Linked DNA regions of Homo sapiens: all the other regions are linked to region 4. Evidence: fine-mapped expression QTL. A gene starts in region 4. Each other region holds a variant in brackets. All regions are shown on one strand. Distances are between the middles of the regions. Region 1 holds the start of H3C1 (H3 clustered histone 1). Region 2 overlaps H1-1 (H1.1 linker histone, cluster member). Region 3 has its middle 11 kb from the start of H1-2. Region 4 holds the start of LINC02980 (long intergenic non-protein coding RNA 2980).

Region 1 (2,687 bases), 27 kb after region 4:
CGCTGCAATTAATACTCAAACTGCAAGTGTGGAAACGTTTCTGCACTTGCAACTTATTTCCACAGTCCAATGTGGGATGCACTTCAGGAATTTCCAATGCCCTTTTCATCCATACAACATGCCCCAAATTGGTATTAAGGTTTACAACCTGTGTTCCATGTCAGCACACGCAATCAGCGCACCATGACATGGTCAACTCATTCTTTTATTCAACAAATATTTATGGGCCTCACAAGCCTGCGAAAGGCGTTAAATGCTGGGTCCACGAAACCGGTTCCCTGACAGGCATTCTGCTGGGGAGTTAAGTCCACTTAGTGTGAAAGCAAACACGGGTGATAAATGCAAGCACACCCTGGGGATAAGATTTTATGGTAACAACCCTTTAACTTGTTTGTGGCTGTTAAGTGCATTTCAAAGTATCAATAAGCTAAAACGATCTCACATTGCCAATCAGAGACTCAGCTAATGGGAGAATAAAAAACTATTAAATCGACATCCACTTCTACAATCCTATTCTGGATAACCCCCTAGCACAGCACAGCAGAGAGTGAGGTAATGCGGTCTTATTTCCGCTCCTGCTGTGGTAGTTTTCAAATAAGTCCGAACCATGCTAAGTAACCTGAGCTTTTCCCCTTTTTGTTCAAACAACGTGCCAACCAAATAATGGAGTGGTCCCAGATAAGTATTGTACCCATCTTCTGCACCAGTGCTTCCTACGTCCCATTTTATTGAGAAGGCATGCATTCAAATATTTCACGTAATTTCTAAAAATTTGGAAAATAACGGTTGGAAACTCTACATCTTGGTTTGACGGCTAGTCAGTTATGAAACACAGGTATACAAAATTGGAAGATTTTTGTAAGTAAACCCTTTGTGAAAGATATAAACCTTTCTTAGTGTAATAAGCGAGGTATCTGAAAAAACGCAACTTTTGAAAAGGAAATACTCCTAATTATCTGATTCAGGAGTTTCCACTTTAAATAATGGGTTCTGCCTCCCTTTTTTCTATTGGGTTAAACTGGTTTCAAATAAAATGGGAACGCTCCATGCAAATGAAGGATGATAGATCTGCTTTCTAAATGGCTGTTCAAGAAAATAGCCTAAACCAATCAAAAGATAGAATGTGGCCTGTCTCTTGTGAATTTAAAAAGGTCACAATCCACTTTTCAGTGTTTTGAGATTTTCAAAATGATTGCATTAGCTCTTGGCAATGCTAAATTATGTTCCTTGCGAACCACTATCCAGTTTCTCTTGGGCCAAGTCCACCTCCTGCTCCGCAAGAGGAACAACTCCCAGCTGGTGGTACCTGGCGGCAGTGCTGGAGAAACGCCATTTTGTGACTGGCAGAGTACACCTAGGCTTTAGAAAACAAAAGCTGCAGAACGCTGCAAGTTTAGGATTCAAAGAGCATAATCAAGAGAAAGACGTCTCATAGAAAATGTTTCTGAGTAATAGTGTAATCCTACTATGTTTGAGATGCTTTGTAGATTTCAATAACACTCCTAAGTCAATTAAAGCATTACAAAGGAATCCAATTCTTGTGAAAGGTTTCAGAAATTCCCGTAAAGGGTACATTTCCGGAGAGGAGGTGAGCAGTATTCCCT[CTT/C]TTTTTTTTTTTTTTTTTTTTTCCTAAAGAGCTGAAGGTTATACGGAATTGGGGAATTATAATACCTTTGGAATCAATGCCTTGTTTTATGGAAAATAAACACAGCCTTCAGGTTATGAAAACCAGATGTAGAAGAGGACAAGTTTAAAAAATTAAAGTCCAAGCCGGCGCAGTGGGGCTCCCCTGTAATCCCAGCTACTCTGGATGCTGAGGCGGGAAGATCCTTTGAGCCCAAGTTTAAGACCAGCTTGGGGAACAAAGCAAAAGTAAAATAAAATAATAGTAGTAATAAAATACCACTTAAATAATCATCTGTAGAGTTGGAATAGAATATAGTAGCCGGTGAAACTGCACGATTGTTGCTGGCTTAAAGATAGACCAATCAGAGTGTGTAACGTCATATTTAGCGTCTTCTATCATCCAATCACTGCACTTTACACACTATAAATAGAGCAGCTCATGGGCGTATTTGCGCTAGTGTTGGGTGTTCCGCTGTGCTGTTTTTCCGTCATGGCTCGCACTAAGCAAACTGCTCGGAAGTCTACTGGTGGCAAGGCGCCACGCAAACAGTTGGCCACTAAGGCAGCCCGCAAAAGCGCTCCGGCCACCGGCGGCGTGAAAAAGCCCCACCGCTACCGGCCGGGCACCGTGGCTCTGCGCGAGATCCGCCGTTATCAGAAGTCCACTGAACTGCTTATTCGTAAACTACCTTTCCAGCGCCTGGTGCGCGAGATTGCGCAGGACTTTAAAACAGACCTGCGTTTCCAGAGCTCCGCTGTGATGGCTCTGCAGGAGGCGTGCGAGGCCTACTTGGTAGGGCTATTTGAGGACACTAACCTGTGCGCCATCCACGCCAAGCGCGTCACTATCATGCCCAAGGACATCCAGCTCGCCCGCCGCATCCGCGGAGAGAGGGCGTGATTACTGTGGTCTCTCTGACGGTCCAAGCAAAGGCTCTTTTCAGAGCCACCACCTTTTCAAGTAAAGTAGCTGTAAGAAACCAATTTAAGACAAAAGGGAATGCATTGGGAGCACTTTTCGTTTTAATGCTACTGAAGGCTTCAAAACCAATCGATTTCGG
Region 2 (2,687 bases), 24 kb after region 4:
AGAGTAAGACTCTGTCTAAATAAATAAATAAATAAATAAAATAATAAAATACAACCTAAAACCTAGCAATCTCAGCCCTGGAATTCTATTCAATTGCACCATGTTCAGCAGTGGTAACTGGAAACATCAATGCTTATCAATAAGAAATGGATGAATAACTTATGCTATTCCATGTGAAGGATTTCTTTTTTCATGACAGGGTTTTAGAAAAGTTTGGTTAAGAGAAAAGCAACATGCAGAAGTGTATATAACATCGTTGTAAAAAATTTTTATTATTTTTGTTTTGAGACTGGGTCTCATTCTGTCACCTAGGCTTGAGTGCAGTGGCACGATCTCTGCTCACTGCAGCCTCTACCTCCCAGGTTCCAGTCATCTTCCCACCCCAGCCTCCCAAGTAGCTGGGACTATAAGTGCGTGCCACTGGGCCTTGCTAATTTTTTGTATTTTTTGTCAAGATGGGATTTCACCATGTTGCCCAGGCTGGTCTTGAACTCCTGAGCTCAAGTAATCTGCCCATCTGGCTTCCTAAAGTGCTGGGATTACAGATGTGAGCCACTGCGTCCAGGCTTTGTTTTTTAAATTAATAACCCTAATCAAAAGACAAAACAATTATGCATACAAGGCCAGGCACAGTGACCGTAATCCCAACACTTTGGGAGGTCGATGATCACTTGAGGCCATTTCTAGACCAGCTTGGACAACATGGTGTGACTGTCTCCACAAAAAATAAAAACAAAAAGCCCGGCTTGGTGGTGCGTGCATGCAATCCCAGCTACTCCGGATGCTGAGGCTGCAGGATAGCCTGAGCCCAGGAGTTGGAGGTTACAGTGTGCTGTGATTATGCCACTGCAGTCCAGTCTGGGCAACAGACTGAGACCCAGTCTCAAAAGATAACGTGTTTTTTTTTTTTTTTTTTTAAAAAAACAAAACCACAAGTATGCATGTATATAGATAGGTGTATGTAAAATACTTAGTTCAAAGAAAAACATGTATATTTCTCACAAAAATAGGTGAGAATTTTTGTTTTAAAGGATAAACCTAGGTAGCTACATATTAGTTTGAGGAAGGGGGAACAGGGATGTGATGTGCCTGTATCCCTGACTTTAGACGATGGAAGGAGCTAAGCAAAACAATTGAAAAAAGACCGTTTGAAAAATACAACTGATTATTAACTCATATGCACACACGCAAAAATAAACTTTTAGAATTGAACTGCACTAAGTAAAAGTGAGTAAACTTGGCTCATCATATACTCTTGTCAGATGTAAACAAAAAAGTCCAATTATTAAAATCTGACCCCCAGAATTAAAATTGCAAAAGCTTAAAGGGGCAGTTCTGAGAAAAGGATCTTCAGTTTTGAATGTGTGGGCTCCACCAGGGTTGAAAATCCTGCACGACTGATGAAACACGATCCAGTTAAGCACAGTAATTTTCAAATATCCAATCAGGGCGCTTCCGTTTCTAAAAACAGAGAAACCGAGCAAGGGATTTTGGGTTGCAGCTCTAAAACTCCAACAAACTAAGCTCCTTTGTCCTGACAAGGGCCTAAACCAAGTCGACAGCCCGTAAGTGCACCCATGGTAAGGCGCTGCACAAAGAAAGCATTTTGCGTTTCAAAGCTTTGTCATGATGGCGCTGCAGAAAGCAAGCGAGCTAGGCCTA[C/T]CTGGCGGGGCTTTCAGAGGACGCCAACGTGGGCGCCAGCCACGCCAGCAGGGTCACCGTCCTTCCCAAGGACAGACAGCTCGCTAGCCACTCCTGTGGAGAGGGCGTGGTTAAGCCATATATTTTGCCAACTATCCCAGAAGCATTTCTTAGGACCACCCAATTTCGGAAAATGCTACTTTAGCAATATTGACCCCAAAACGCAATATCCCCACTTTAACCTTGTATAATAAAAAGCCTCAAGCCTGGGACTGGGCTTCAACCTTGGTTCAATACGGTTATGACTAATTAGCTTGGAGTCGTGAGACGCGGGACTTCCGGCTACCGAAACCCAGGTGACTTTAAAACTCGATTTTAACTCGGTGCATTTGAATTCACCTTGCTATCTTTGATAGATTGAGTAGTAAATTCTTACTAGATGAGGCTATGTTAAAGTTCTATCGACTCTCCAAGTGATTCTAATATAATTGAGGGCGTGTTGCATTTGCTTGGGGGATTTCATCTGTGTACTACAGCTCTTTTCCTGAAATGCGTAGGTGGCTCTTAAAAGAGCCGTTGGGTTACTAGAAGAAACTTCTAACTGAATTTACTTTTTCTTGGGTGCCGCTTTCTTGGGTTTGGCAGTCTTTGGCTTCGTCACCCTAGCCTTGGCCGCCTTGGGTTTTACAGCCTTAGCTTTAGCAGGGCTTTTAGCTACTTTCTTGGGCTTTACAGTTTTGGGTTTTTTTGGATTCTTGGAGGATTTCCTTGTTGCCGCAGGCTTTTTAGCCTTTTTCGGAGTCTTGACGCTCTTTTTGCTAGCCCCCGTGGCCTTTTTGAGCTTTTTAGATGCACCCGTTGCCTTAGTTTTTGTAGCCACCTTTGAGGCGCCGGGCTTGGTTTCCACGGAGGACGCCTTCTTGTTGAGCTTGAAGGAACCCGAGGCTCCGGTACCCTTTGTCTGCACCAACGTTCCCTTGCTTACCAGGCTCTTAATGCCCAGCTTAATGCGGCTGTTGTTCTTCTCCACGTCGTAGCCTGCGGCC
Region 3 (2,687 bases), 75 kb after region 4:
CACTAGATGACGCTCCAAATCAAAATGCCGGTAGTTGGACAGCCCCTGATCAAGCCGCCCGGCAAATCATTAACTGGGTTGACACTGTATTACTCAGCAGATTTCAAAACTCATTCACATACAGAGTCTTTTGGTGGACAAAAATAATTATTACCCACAATTGACAGTGACAGTACTGAGAAGCTGGGAAACTGAAGTAGGACCCTGGAGCAGCCAAGTACAGAGACTGGCTCCCAGGACCTTAGGAGTTAATACTATTCCTAAAGAGAATAAATTGTCAAATAGACAAGAAATTCATGTGGGTTGATGCATTCACTTCCCCAAAACAATTATTAAGCAGTAGAAATGATAACTACGCTGGTAGTGGAAATAGTTTACAGTAAAAGGGAGAAGACATGCAAAAACCAAAAAAAAAAACGGGGCCGGGCGCAGTGGCTCACTCCTGTAATCCCAGCACTTTGGGAGGCTGAGGCGGGCCGATCACGAGGTCAGGAGATCGAGACCATCCTGGTTAACAAAGTGAAACCCCGTATCTACTAAAAATACAAAAATTAGCCGGGCTTGGTGGTGGGTGCCTGTAGTCCCAGCTGCTCAGGAGGCTGAGGCAGGAGAATGGCGTGAATCCGGGAGGCGGAGCTTGCAGTGAGCGGAGATCACACCACTGCACTCCAGCCTGGGCAACAGAGCAAGACTCCGTCTCCAAACAACAACAACAAAAAAACAGGCAGTGATGTTTTATGTGGGTCAGTGTGAAGTAGAGATCAAAGGAGAAAACGGCCAATCTTACCAAATAATGGATGCAGAAATAATCTTCATGGAGAAGCCACTTTAATTATGTCTTAAATGAGAGTAACAAATTAAACATAAGAACCTGTAGGGGCTAAGGGAAAACTTACTCTTTGGCCTCTGAAGAGTCGCTGAAAACCACCGACAAGAGGAAGATTAATAGGATAAAATGCATCCAATTTATTATTATTATTATTATTATTATTATTATTATTATTATTTTTAGACGGAGTCTCACTCTGTCACCAGGCTGGAGTGCAGTGGCGCAATCTCGGCTCACTGCAACCTCCGCCTCCCGAGTTCAAGCAATTCTCCTGCCTCAGCCTCCCCAGTAGCTGGGACTACAGGCATGTGCCACCACGCCCAGCTAACTTTTGTATTTTTAATAGAGACGGGGTTTCACCATTTCGGCTAGGGTGGTCTTGACCTCGTGGTCTGCCCGCCTCAGCTCCCAAAGTGCTGGGATTACAGGCGTGAGCCATTGCACCCGGCTGCATCCAATTTATTAATGTGTATATTAATAAATTATCCAATTTATATCCAATTTATTAATGTGTATTAACATGTACAGGGGAAATTGTCCATTTTTATTTTTTAGATTCAACAAAGTATGGGCCGCCGTGTAGAAATAGGATTGCTAATAAACAGAGTAGGGAAACCCAGCAAGGCCTGTCTGTCTAGATTCTTCTTCGC[C/T]TCTCTGTGCAGCATTCCTTCCTTCTGGATCCTCTCTGGAATGCGGTCTGGTGATCTATGATCAAATAAGGTAGTTCAGATAATTTCTTTATGGCCAGTTTTTACACAGAAAAACAGAGGGAAAGTTAGAGTAATATTTTTAGGTTTTATGGCTGGGCTCTGGGGAAAAGGTGTTTTGATTTCTATGACCTAACTTGAGGAAGAGGAATTCTCATTTCTATGGCTAGACTCCGGGGAGAATGGGACTCAGAGACAGGAGGGCAGGAGAAGATCAGAGAAAAACTTTGGCTTCTGCGGTCTTTATTTTGGGGTATTGTTTTCTGAGTTCCAACAAACCCCAAGGACCTACAAAGACTGCATACTTTTTTTTTCCTTTTTATTAATTGTGAGATAACCACAGCATAGGCAATTTGTTTTTTGTTTTTGTTTTTGAGACAGGATTTTGCATTGTTGCCCAGGCTGGAGTGCAGTGGCATAATCATAGCTCACTGCGTCCCCAAACTTCTAGGCTCAAGAGATCCTCCCAGCTTAGCCACAACTGAGAGGTGCTACTAGCATTTAGTGAGTAGAGAACAGATATGACTAGAGGTTCATTAAGTGTTTTGAGCCTTTACAGCTTCAAAATTGTCTTTGCTAACCCCTAACTTTTGGATGCTACAGAGGGCCCCTGGAGTATCCAAAGGAGAGGTAAACAGGATCATTTGACACGTTTAGTTATATAGGATTGTTGAAATAAGGTGATATTTGATCTTCAGGTCATATTTCAGTGAAAACTGTGAATGTGTGTTCCAAAATTATAGGGGATTTCTAGAGTTCTGATATCTGAGTTTGTGTCATCAGTTATAATTAGAGTTATTGTGTTAGGCTATTGTAAATCACAGAGGTGACTAAATTTCTTTGTCAATTGTGTTTTTGACTGTGACTACCCTAGGACATTTTAACATTCATAGACAAATGTTGTCTTGTTTTGAAACTCTGCAAAGAATGGATTATAACCCTCAATTGCAGGTTTCTGATAACTTTGAAGATTGTGAACAGGAGTTAACTAGGTGAGCTGAACTATTGGAAAACTAATCTTCTTGACTCTTGCCTCTGTACCTAATTCTTCCTGGATGCAGGACAAGAACTCAGGCAAAGGTGCTGCAGCATAAAGTCTGGCCAGAGAAACTGACACTCCAGAGGTTTTGTAACAATATTTTATGTTAAAT
Region 4 (2,687 bases):
CAACTGGGTGAAAGTGGACCAGTGACACCATTTGTCTGGGCCTTCCTTTCCTGAAATATAATATTGGGGCAATAGTCCCTGGTTCTTGTAAGGTGTTCAGGCACAAAACGCTAGGCATGTAACATACTAAATGAGGTTTTCCCAGTTAATTTATATGATTGCAAAGGACGTTCATATACACGGTCTGCTAAAGAATTCTGGGGCCAATTAATCTCTGTGGCATGATGGGTAAGTCGATCCCTTCTCTGGGCGTCTATTACTTCAGAAAAGGCATGAACTCAATTTTAGGGACCACACAAAAAAATTTATTCACTATCGTGTAGGACTTGGTCATTAGAGAGCTTTTGTTTCTTTTTTTTAAAATTTTTTTTAATTTTTATTTTCGTGTATGTGAATTTAATGGAGAGCTTTTAAATAACCAGATATTTAAATAACCAGATAATACAGATGCCCGGCCTGCTCCAGACAAATTAGAAAAGTATGTAGGTGAGGAGGGACCAGCCAGAAGGCGGTTTCAGCTCTGGAGTGACACTGAACGTACTTCTCTTCCAGGGATGTCACGAGGTGTCAATTTCTCTGGCCTTACCCAGGTCCATGCCCGCCCCCAGGGGCCCCAAGAATGACTTCAGCACCCCACCCCCACCTCCCTCTCCAGATGTGGGTCCTGGGAGCGTTCAAGGCCCGTCAGTCACTCGAGCCACCCCTTGGCGGCTGGACCAAATCTTGGGCTGCCGCCTGGATCTGCAGCTGGAAAGCGCCGTGACCACCGGTGTCCCCAGCTGGAGCAGGGCGGGCTGCACGACTCGCGAGGACGCCCTGAACCGCGGCTTCCTCTTTCATAGCCGCAGGACTCGTGGTCAGAAGGCCGACTCCAAGCCTCAGCGGATCCACGAAATGGCCTCTTTGAGGCTGTGGTGAAATTTAAGATACCCTTTCCCTGCCATTGTTACTGACGTACTTCAGCAAACAGGTTAAAGTTCTGAAAGGACGTGGTCACGACTTTATATTTCTTACAGATTTGTGTCTCATGTTTTGTGCGTAAAAACCATTCGTCCTCATTTGAGATTCTCATATCCGTAATTCAGTTATACATAAAACTGAATTCAGTTATATCATAAAATGTTCCCATGCGGGGAATGATTCGTTGGGGTCTCAGCCTGAGGCCAGACGCAGCAGAGAGATCGGGAGTTGGGGGATGGCGGGCGGGGAGCGGAGAGGAGGCCGCCCGCCGCCAGACTCAGGGTCCAGCAGAGCAGCAAATGCTCCCCGGCTCCCAGCCAGGGCGCAGCTGCTGGCCTGGGGCCGCCCCTCACGCCGCAGGAGCCCCGCCCGCAGCGCCGGCCCTGCCCCTGGCCTGTGAGGGCGCCAGCGCCCCCTACAGCTTGCAGTCGCCCTGCGCGCCTCCCCGCGAGGCTTGTTTTCTAGCGCCTCTGGTGGGCCGCCTCCCGCAGGCCTGGTGTGAGCCTGGGGTCCGTTCTCACAGCTGGATCTGGGGTCTGAATGCCGCGCCCTCTGGAGAGCCACAGATGGGTCTCCGCTGATGCTTCTCTCAATTTCCTCTAAGAGCGAGAGCTCCGGGAAAGGAGCCGATCCTGGTGGAAGACTACAGGTCTGAGTCCACTGGACGAAAAACGAGGTGCGTTAAGAGACCGCGGGAGTGGGGAAATGGGGAAGTGAGGGTGGGGACTGGGCAATGGGGGCGGGACGAGAGGTCTGGGGCTGGCGGGGACAGGGCTTAAGAGAGAGCCACCCCTCCTAGCCTTGAAGCTGTACCGAGCTTCCCTGTGATATTTTAAAATGCAAAAGTACAAAAATTGAAGTAATGGAACTATGCGTACGCACCTCCTAGATTTTTAAAGGTTAACGTGTGACTGTGTTTACTTCAGATGTTCCTGAAATAAATGAAAATGACCAGTTAAAATGAAGGAAGAACGCGCTTGCGTCCCTCCTAGAGGTCAAACACTCTTCTGAGGATAGGTTGTATGCTCTCAGCGCCTCTTTTTATTAAAAGTATTAAGAAGTACTTTTCCAAATATTAGATGTAGTGTGTCATATCATTTAAACGATTTTTTTTGTTTAAAATAGTCTTTTAAAAATAATCTTTTTATTTTTAGATTTTTTTGAGACAGAGTCTCGCTGTGTTGCTCAGGCTGGAGTGCAGTGGCGCCATCTCCCCTCACTGCAACCTCTGCCTCCCAGGTTCAAGTGATTCTCCTGCCTCAGACTCCCAAGTAGCTGGGATTAAAAGCGTGAGCCACCACACCCTACCAATTTTTGTATTTTAGTAGAGATGGGGTTTCACTATGTTGTCCAGGCTGGTCTCGAAATCATGACCTCCACTAATCCACCTACCTCGGCCTCCCAGAGTGCTGAGATTACAGGCATAAGCCACCGTGCCTGGCCACTTTAATCATTTTTGTTTTTGCATCTAGTCTAAGAAATTCTGCACTAAAATTCTGCACTATTTTCTTCTAAAATTTTAAAACATTTTCTATCTGTGTCTTTGTTAGATGTAGAAACTTTTGTGTATGATATGGGGTATAGCTATAATTTTATTTTTATTCCATATGAAAGCCAGTTTCTCAGCCCAGGTAATTGAATAGACCATCCTTTCTCCACCAACTCTTAAGGCTACTTCTGCTCTATTGTGTTCATAGTAGTTTCTAGGCTTTCTGTTTTGTTGTACT

Evidence for each region.
Region 1: its variant is fine-mapped to the expression of LINC02980 in whole blood (INTERVAL, PIP above 0.99).
Region 2: its variant is fine-mapped to the expression of LINC02980 in whole blood (TOPMed, PIP above 0.99).
Region 3: its variant is fine-mapped to the expression of LINC02980 in nucleus accumbens (GTEx, PIP 0.98).

The regions. Positions count from the first base shown.
Region 1 is chr6:26,018,374-26,021,060 of GRCh38, forward strand. H3C1 (H3 clustered histone 1) reads left to right here and starts at 2,078. Exons shown (of 1, transcript NM_003529.3): 1 at 2,078-2,585. The coding sequence starts at 2,117. The coding sequence ends at 2,527. RefSeq lists enhancers at 1,590-2,406, 2,407-2,687. The variant CTT/C (reference allele first, on the strand shown) is at 1,605.
Region 2 is chr6:26,014,837-26,017,523 of GRCh38, forward strand. It overlaps H1-1 (H1.1 linker histone, cluster member), which reads right to left. Exons shown (of 1, transcript NM_005325.4): 1 at 2,196-2,687. The coding sequence ends at 2,249. It also overlaps the pseudogene H3P26. Among named protein-coding and RNA genes, the nearest start is that of H1-1, 1.6 kb to the right of the region's middle. RefSeq lists an enhancer at 1,144-2,143. The variant C/T (reference allele first, on the strand shown) is at 1,663.
Region 3 is chr6:26,066,078-26,068,764 of GRCh38, forward strand. No RefSeq gene overlaps it. Among named protein-coding and RNA genes, the nearest start is that of H1-2, 11 kb to the left of the region's middle. RefSeq lists an enhancer at 536-1,035. The variant C/T (reference allele first, on the strand shown) is at 1,480.
Region 4 is chr6:25,991,283-25,993,969 of GRCh38, forward strand. It overlaps LINC02980 (long intergenic non-protein coding RNA 2980), which reads left to right and starts at 1,385. Exons shown (of 3, transcript NR_186645.1): 1 at 1,385-1,636. RefSeq lists a silencer at 1,194-1,503 and an enhancer at 1,494-1,703.